Homo sapiens: one gene and its partners. The gene in region 1 interacts genetically with each later gene. Each region holds a gene or a part of one and is shown in the gene's direction. Other genes may lie near its edges.

What was found.
Region 2: changes in RIC1 (region 1) and PTAR1 are lethal when combined (synthetic lethality), as found in Homo sapiens cells (one study listed by BioGRID).
Region 3: changes in RIC1 (region 1) and EIPR1 are lethal when combined (synthetic lethality), as found in Homo sapiens cells (one study listed by BioGRID).

What each region holds. Positions count from the first base shown.
Region 1 is NC_000009.12:5,765,033-5,768,694, forward strand, and holds part of RIC1 (guanine nucleotide exchange factor subunit RIC1), read left to right. Parts: intron 1-381; coding exon 382-540; intron 541-629; coding exon 630-766; intron 767-3,662. UniProt on the Homo sapiens protein: The RIC1-RGP1 complex acts as a guanine nucleotide exchange factor (GEF), which activates RAB6A by exchanging bound GDP for free GTP, and may thereby be required for efficient fusion of endosome-derived vesicles with the Golgi compartment.
Region 2 is NC_000009.12:69,725,463-69,729,124, reverse strand, and holds part of PTAR1 (protein prenyltransferase alpha subunit repeat-containing protein 1), read left to right. Parts: intron 1-3,662.
Region 3 is NC_000002.12:3,190,554-3,192,889, reverse strand, and holds part of EIPR1 (EARP and GARP complex-interacting protein 1), read left to right. Parts: intron 1-308; coding exon 309-476; intron 477-2,336. UniProt on the Homo sapiens protein: Acts as a component of endosomal retrieval machinery that is involved in protein transport from early endosomes to either recycling endosomes or the trans-Golgi network.

The sequences.
Region 1 (3,662 bases):
CTATTTTGGAGTCAGGCAAACCTCCCTTTTTTTTCTTCCTTTTCTGCTGATCTTCAACAATTTACTTAACTCAGTTTCCTCACTTGTAAAATACAAATGATATGCCTATCTGCAGAGTCACTGGGAGAAATAAATGAAATGACTTAAAGTATATGTATGCTATCTGGCATGTAGTAGGAGTTTAATAAATTATAGTTTACATACACCAGAAGAGTACTTGCCTCGCTTTTCCTTGTATGGTACTTTTTAATCTTATTATTAAACTAACCCCTGTGGTGGTGTGGCTACATTCTTTGAGTTTAGAAAACGAGATAAAGAATTGCTCATATCTTCCCAAATTGTGTAGTATAAAAAGAATGCTGTCCTGGTTGTTTTTTGTAGAATATGGAAGTCCCTGCAGTAAGTAGGCAACATGCTACCCTTCTATTCAACACAGCACTAGAACAAGGCAAGTGGGACCTTTGTCGACACATGATTCGATTTCTTAAAGCCATTGGCTCTGGAGAATCTGAGACACCTCCATCCACACCCACAGCTCAGGTTAGTTGCAAAAGTTACACATCTTCTCTAGGCCATACACCCACGTAGCATCTTTCTCTAATGGTACTGCATATGGTGTGTAATCCTAGGAACCCAGTTCAAGTGGTGGATTTGAGTTCTTCAGGAATCGAAGCATCAGTTTATCCCAGTCAGCTGAAAATGTTCCTGCCAGTAAATTCAGTTTACAGAAAACACTAAGTATGCCATCTGGTCCCTCTGGAAAAAGGTAAAATAATAAAGAGCCATTACTGCTTTTTGGGCATTCATGACACATTGCATTTCAAGACATTTACAAAATTAGGTCTTAATGGAAACAACTATTTAATCCAATTGCAGTTTCTTTTTCCATTCCCAAAAAGCAGAGGCCACACAGAAGGCTTCCCTTTTTCCTTCCTCCCAAGTTCACTTCAGCACCCTCTGAATAGTTTCTGCCCCTTTTTCTGGAATAGATCTTCATGTACCTGTTCTGAATGTAACAAACTTGTTTAAGACAGAGTCTCACTCTGTCACCCAGGCTGGAATGCAGTGGCACCATCTCAGCTCACTGCAACCTCCGCCTTACAGGTTCAAGCGATTATCCTGCCTCAGCCACCCAAGTAGCTGGGATTACAGGCATATGCCACCACACTCGGCTAATTTTCATATTTTTAGTAGAGACGGGGTTTCAACATGTTGCCCAGGCTAGTCTCGAACTCCTGGCCTCAAGGATCCACCTGCCTCTGCTTCCCAAAGGGCCGGGATTACAAGCGTGAGCCACCCTACCTGGCCAAATGCTACAAACTTTTTTTTCCCATAAGTTACTGGGGTCCAGGTGGTATTTGGTTACATTAATAAGTTATTTAGTGGTGATTTGTGAGATTTTGGTGCACCCATCACCCAAGCAGTATACACTGCACCATATTTGTTGTCTTTTATCCCTCACCCCCTCCCAGCCTTTCCCCCAAGTCCCCAAAGTCCATTGTATCATTCTTATGCCTTTGCGTCCTCATGGTTTAGCTCCCACATATCAGTGAGAACATACTACATTTGGTTTTCCATTCCTGAGTTACTTCACTTAGAATAATACTCTCCAATCTCATCAGGTCACTGCAAATGCTGTTAATTCATTCCTTTTTATGGCTGAGTAGTATTCCATCATATATACGTATATACAAGTTTCTTTATCCACTCGTTGACTGATGGGCATTTGGGTTGGTTCCACGATTTTGCAGTTGTGAACTGTGCTGCTATAAACGTGTGTGCAAGTATCTTTTTTGAATGACTTCTTTTCCTCTGGGTAGAACCCCAGTAGTGAGATTGCTGGATCAAATGGTAGTTCTACTTTTGGTTATTGAGGGAATCTCCACCCTGTTTTCCATAGCAGCTGTACTAGTTTACATTCCCACCGGCAGTGTAGAAGTGTTCCCTGATGGCCACATCCATGCCAACATCTACTGTTTTTTGATTATGGTCATTCTTGCAGGAGTAAGGTGGCATTGCGTTGTGGTTTTGATTTGAAAATGCAACAAACTTTTAAATTACCTCTGATGATAGAGGACCAAAAGGAAGATAGATAAATCTGTAGGTAATCCAAAAGCCTTCTTAAAGTCGTAATTTTACCTTTCCTTCTAATTATACTTTTTGATATAAATTTAGTGCTAATGCATTTGACACTCTTGTGACCTATTGATTAGAGAAGTTATTACACAGTCGGGGAGCCAAATGAATTGTATGCTGGAGACTGAAACTGCTATCACCCATAGATGGGATATTGTCTTCTGAGAGATGACTATGAATTCACACTAACATTATAAAATCATGAGAATTTCCTCTGGTTTGTGAGGCCTGTGTATTCCTTCCTATGTTCTTCTGTTGTTGTCTCATTTTTTTCCTTACCTAATCCTTTGTTTTATATTGTTCATATTCTCTTTTTTTTTTTTTCCCCAGGACAACATGAACATATGTTTATATTCTTACTACCGTGCTTGGGCACATAGTGAGAGCTTATTGAACGTTTGTTATTGTCATGTTTTACTGGGTTTTTTTGTTTTTTGAGATGGAGTTTCGCTCTTGTTGCCCAGGCTGGAGTGCAATGGCTTGATCTCGGCTCATCGCAATCTCCGCCTCCCAGGTTCAAGTGATTCTTCTGCCTCAGCCTCCCAAGTAGCTGGGATTACAGGCATGCACCACCACGCCTGGCTCATTTTGTATTTTTAGTAGAGACGGGGTTTCTCCGTATTGGTCAGGCTAGTCTCAAACTCCCGACCTCAGGTGATCCGCCTGCCTCTGCCTCCCAAAGTGCTGGGATTACAGGCATGAGCCACCATGCCCAGCCTGTTTTACTGTTTTTTAACAAGTGCTTACTACATGCCAGGCCTTATTCTAAGCATTTACATACATAGGTCCTATTTTAAACAACTCTATGAGGGTTATCCACATTGTATAGGTGAAGAAACAGAGGCCTAGGAAAATAAACTTAGTTATGTTCACACAACAAATGAGTGGCAGAGCCAAGATCCGAATCCAGGCAGTACTGCACCAGAGACTAGGCTCTTTACCCCACCACTAAACTGCCTCTCACTTAAAGCACCACATTATCCAGTTACCAAACCAGTTCCCCCACATTAGCTCATGTAAGTCAGGAATGAGAGACTATACTTAGGCAAGTTGTAATTTTTAAAAATTGGTTTCAGGACTGGCAAGGTGGCTAACACCTGTAATTCCAGCACTTTGGGAGGCCAAGGTGGGAGGATTGCTTGAGGCCAGGAGTTCAAGATGAGTCTGGGCAACACAGCAAGATCCCATCCTTGCAAAAATAAAAATACATTGGCTAGGCATGGTGGCAAGTACCTGTAGTCCCAGCTACTTGGGAGGCTGAGGTGGGGAAGATAGCTTGAGCCCAGGAGTTTGAGGTTGCAGTGAGCTATGATCACACCACTGCACTCCAGACTGGGTGACATTGTGAAACCTTGTCATTTAAGAAAAAAAAAGTTGGTATTCTTTTCATATGTCTGCATGACTCACACTGAGAAATTTAATTTCACTTTGCCTCTCTATCCTTAGTTTCTTTGATGTGCTCTCCTTCCCTCTTTTCATTGGGCTTTTCAAATATAGCATAGAGGTTTGCTGCCTTTCTTTCTGTC
Region 2 (3,662 bases), about 64 Mb from region 1:
TGGTCTTGAACTCCTGACCTCAAGCAATCCACCTGCCTCTGCCTCCCAAAGTGCTGGGATTACAGGCATGAGCCACCACACCCAGCAGCCTAATATAATTTTTAATGTATTTATTAGCATTGAATGAGACAGCAAATACTTTAAAGTGTTTGAAACAGTGCTTGGCACATGGTAAATGCTGAACAGATAGTAATACATACACACAACAATGCTATAGATTTTTTTCTTGTATTTTTTATAAAAGCATATATTTGTTTTCTAGTCAGAAAAAGGTTAAAGAATAAAGATTGATTAAAAGTAGTATAGGGTGGAATTATGACACTAATTTTCTATTTTATGTTCTCTCTGATGTCTGCATGCTTAAATAAACATTTAAGTAAATTTTAAAATATTTTTATATTTGAGGGTAGTGTGGCAGGAAAGATTCACAGTCAGGCAGTTTATTACTACTGGCAAATTACAAGTTTCACATAAAAAAAGCACATATAGTCATTTCTCCAAAAAACCTACCCACACCACCAATAAGGACATGAAAAGATATTCACCATCTTTACTATTAGGGAAATGCAAAGCAAAACCACAGGGAGTGAGATACCACTTCACACCAAAATACGGACAATAACAAATGTTGGTTAGGATGTGGAGAAACTGAAACTCTTATTTATGGCTGGTAAGAATGTAAAATGGTACAGCCACTGTGGAAAGCAGTTTGGCATTTCCTCAAATAATTAAACATAGAATCACTATATATTAATAAAACTATAGTTAATATATATCATATTCTTGGAGAAAAACATGCATTACCATATATGACCCTGTAATTCTGCTCCTAGGTATATACCCAAGAGAAGTGAAAACACATTCCATACCAAATCTTGTATGAGAACATTAATAGCCATATTATTTATAATAGCCAAAAAATAATACCTCACCTGAGGAATGGAAAACAAAATGTGGCGTATCCATGCAATAGAACATTGGCCATAAAAAAGGAAGGAAATACTGATACATGCTATAACGTGGATGAACCTTGAAAACATGCTGATTGAAAGCAGTCAGATTCAAGGCCACATATTGTATGATTTCATTTATATAACATGTTCAGAATAGGCAAAGCAGGTTAGTGGGTGCCAGAGGCTGGGGAGGAGGGAATGGGATGTAACTTCTAATAGGAATGGGGTTTTGTGGGGGTGGTGAAAACATTAGAAATTAGATAAGAGCAATGGTTGCACAATTCTGTGAATATATTAAAAACCACTGATTTATTTTTTCACTTCAAAAATGATTCTAAAGTACATTAGAGAGAATAAAGCTTAAAGAATAGCTGAGGAATTGTTGGGAAAAACAATAAAGAACACTCTACCATTAGATACTTACATGTTTATTAATAAGACAGAGTAATTAAAATTGTGATGCTATTTCAAAAATAGACTCAGTAATGGAACAGAATATAAAGTCCAGAAACAAATTCCAATACATAATATGTACATATTTCATTAATGATGAATATGGCATTTCACATAATTAGAGAAAGGATTCCCTGTTCAATTTGTGATGCTGGTAAAATTTATTGACTTTTTAGAAAATAGAAAGTTAGGTGGTTTTTTTTTTTTAATCTTAAATACCAAATTGAACTTTAAATGGAATAAAAACCTATATGAAGAAAAGAGACTCACATTATGCTAAGTGAAATAAGCCAAGCGCAGAAGGATAAATATTGCATGGTGTCACTTGTAGGTGGACTCTAAACAAGTTGAACTCATGGAAATAGTAGAATGGTGATTGCAGGAGTAGGGGTTGTGGTGGGGAACAGGGAGTTGCTGGTTAAAGGGTACAAAGTTTCCGTTAGGATGAGTAAGTTCTGGAGGTCTAATGGTAGAACATGGTAATTACTGTTAATAATGTATACCCAAAGATTTCTAAGAGCGTTATCTTAAATGTTCTTACCACAAAAAATAAAATACTTATGTGAGGTGATAGATAAGTTAATTCACTTGATGGTGGTAATCATTTCACAGTGTATACATAAAAACAATATGTCGTACATCGTATATATATATGTGTGTGTATACGTGTGTGTGTGTGTGTGTGTGTGTGTATATACACAATTTTAATTTGTCATTTATACTTCTTCAATAGACCTGAGGGAGAAAAGAAAAAAAAGAATTTTACTTGACTCCCAATCTTTAAAAAAAAAAAAAGAATTTAAAAAATCAGTTGCAGTAATATATCGAAAATAATATTTATAACACATATGACAAATAGAGACTTAATATCTTTAATATGTAAAGACCTCTTACAAACTCGTAAGAAAAATAATGACTATCACAAATAGTAAATTAGATAATTCATAAAAGTAGAGAATTAGGCAAAATAGGCAGTTCATAAATGAAGAAGCAAAGGAAAAGTAATCACACAAGAAAAGATATTTAGGCTTAATGATAATTAAGGAAATGTAAATTAAAATGAAATGTGATTCTTATTAGTGAAGATTAAAGTATTGATGATGAATTTAGGAAATAAGCATTAACATGTACTTCCAATAGGAGTATAAATTATACAGTCTTTCTGCAGGACACTTTATATATCAAGAACTTTATAAAGTTTTTTTCTTTGTTCCAGCAAGTATATTTCTACAAATTTCTCCTAAATAATTAGATATGTACATAGATTTATTTATGAGTGTTACTTATACAAGAGTAGAAACAAACACAGGAATGGTTAAATTCTGTTAATCTTGAGGGTGAAATATTTTACGAGTTAAAAATTATAGAATAATATTTAATGCCATAGGAATGTATTTATAATTGAAGTAGAATAAAATTGGTACAAAAGAATATCCCAGATTTTTCTTAAAAATAAACTCTGTGCATGTGCATACATAGAAAAAAACCTGAAAGATTTGTTTTCTGCCAGAATGTTACAAGTAGTGATCTCTGGCCAACAAAATAATGGATGATTTTTGTTTGCTTTTTTATATTTTCCCATATTATTGGAATTTTCTATATTGATCATTTTGTATCACTTTTATAATCAGAAGAAAACCCAAATACTATTTTTAAAAGTTTAAAGGACCTATGGCATATGTATTTTTAGTAGTCTTTCATTTTTAGCACGTTATCCCTCTTTTTCATAGCCCTGCATTTGCAGTTTTCTTGTAGTTTATTTATTCACTTATTCATGTTTTCATATGGAAGTAGGAAAAGAAAGATATTTAACGTATATCATACGAAGGTCATTTATCCCATCAGTACTGTACATTAAAGCCATATCTTCATATAGTATCTTTAGATCACTTAAAAGTTAACTGGATCACTTAAAAGTAATTGCTGTCTTTTTTAAAAAAATCATTGCCTCTATCTTTATATCTTTTTATTCTAACAAGAGAATACCCTGAAATTCCAGTTAAAGTTTCTAATATGCATCTTTATATCTTAGGGAAAAGAATATAGTGGATTTTCTCTTTAAAAGCCTAAGAATTTTTTTAAGAAATTGATTTTGTTGAAAATATATATATATATTTTTTTTCTTTTTTGAGATGGAGTCTTGTTTTGTCGCCCAGGCTGGAGTATAGTGGAGCAATCTCGGCTCACTGCAACCTATACCTCCCAGGTTCGAGTTATTCTCCTGCCTCAGCCTCCCAAGTAGCTGGGACTACAGGC
Region 3 (2,336 bases), on another chromosome or scaffold:
AGTATTTTTTTTTTTTTTTCGAATTTTAGAAAGCTTGTCTGAAATGTTGCGTGATAAGCCTTCTCCTCCTGTAGGTTTCAGCCAACATTTAGTCTTCCCTGTCTGTCTCTTGGGACTTAAGAGAAACCTGCAGTAAACCCAACCTCAGCGGAAAACTGCCTTATGTCAGGCCCTGTGACTGGGGGCCGATTGCCTGGCAGTGCCTAACGTGAGCCCCAGCCTAGTGGGGCCCTCAGAGCCGGTGTGATCCATTGTTGGTGTTGCCTGCGGGTGACAGTTCATTTCAGCAGCTGCCTTGCCCTTTGCAGGGTGTGGAACGTCCGCTACAACCACTCTCATGACCAGCTGGTCCTCACGGGCAGCAGTGACAGCAGAGTCATCCTTTCCAACATGGTGTCCATCTCGTCGGAGCCCTTCGGCCACTTGGTAGACGACGATGACATCAGTGACCAGGAGGACCACCGTTCTGAAGAGAAGTAAGGGCACGCACTGCAGAGTGGCTCACGCTGTACCAGAGCCTCCTGTCTGCACAGCCATCTCCCGAGCCAGGCTGTGTATGTAGAAAGTTTCCAGGAGTGCATTTGGGGGACACTCTCCTTACCCACTGCAGCTGTGGGGACTCACAGTTCCAGGGGTGCCGTCATTAGCAGCCCAGGTGGGAGGCACTGCAGGTGCGTTAGGGTTAGGTGCGGTTTTAAAATAGATCTATTTGTGTTTGTATTCTTATTGAATGCCATCTGTAAGATTTAAAAGACTCACTGGTCTTCAAACTTGAGCATGAATAATAATAGAACGAATATATCCCAATCCTCACAGCACTCCCTGTAAGAGACGCATCACAGTCAGTGTCTTCACTGGCGTGGATTTGAGCGTGTTGGGGTCGGGTTGTTGGCCATCAGCTCACGGGCCTTCCACTGGCTGGTAGCAGGGCGGAGACTCCAGGCCAACCTTCCCAGTCTCAAACCCGGGTCCTACTTCACTTCTAGATACTCTACAAAATGTGGTCAACCATGATGTGGGTTTTCTAGTCACACCATCATGGTTCTGGATTTTCCCAAAGCTTTTTCCTATGCACCTTGATTTCTGATCCTAGGTGAGATGGGAGATCGCTAAGGGCAGCCTCTTCATGCCCGCCTCTGGTCAGCGGTGCAGTGCCAGGGCCCCTGTGTCCTTGAGCAGTCCACCTTTAGAAGTGGCAGCCGCTTCCTGGGGGGTGACTAGATGCAATTCAGTTGCAACCGCAGAGATTCTTGCCCCAGGTTCCAGAGGAAGGAGGTTCTGGAATAAAACCTTGTGAAGTTGGACAGAGCCCTTAGATACGATGGGGTCTGTCACTCTGTTTTGGGATCCTTTGCACTGTTTTTTGTCTGAATTCTCCCCCTACCCACCTGAGCTTGGTCTAAAATTCCTCTGTGAGAAGACCTCTTTCTTCAGACCCTCTCTGCAGTGGCGATGGGACCATCTGATTGTCTCTGTCTTCGGACCCTCTCTGCAGTGGGGATGGGCCCATCTGATTGTCTCTGTCTTCAGACCCTCTCTGCAGTGGCGATGGGCCCATCTGATTGTCTCTGTCTTCGGACCCTCTCTGCAGTGGCGATGGGCCCATCTGATTGTCTCTGTCTTCAGACCCTCTCTGCAGTGGCGATGGGCCCATCTGATTGTCTCTGTCTTCAGACCCTCTCTGCAGTGGCGATGGGCCCATCTGATTGTCTCTGTCTTTGGACCCTTTCTGCAGTGGCGATGGGCCCATCTGTTTGTCTCTTGACTCTGTTGCCTTTGTTTTGTTTTTGAGACAAACAAAAACAAACAAAAAAGTCACCCAAGCTGGTGTGCAGTGGCACGATCATGGCTCACTGCAGCCTTGACCTCCTGGGCTCAGGTGATCCTCTCACCTCAGCCTCTCAAGTAGCTGAGACAACAGGCCCATGGCACCATGTCTGGCTAACTTTTTGTAGAGACAGAGTTTTGCCATGTTGCCCAAGCTGGTCTCAAACTCCTGAGCTCAAGTGATCTGCCCACTTCAGCCTCCCAAAGTGCTAGGATTACAGGCATGAGCCAGACTCTGTTGTTTTTCTGTTCAAACCTTAGAAACTCGGTCTGCCATAGAATAGTATTTAAGCACACGCACGGTAGCATCTGCCCAGTGGTCTCTCGGTGCCTGTGGGCCTGGCTCCCTTTACCGTCCTCTCTGCCAGTGGCCCAGGGAGTCTGCACTTCCTCACCATGTCTGTCCCTGTTAGGGGAGGAGCCTGATGGGCCCGTTGGTCGGAAGACTGCTGGCGTTGTCTTCTGGGCGGCAATGTCATGGGAGCAAGATAGGAAGGGAGGAGGTGATC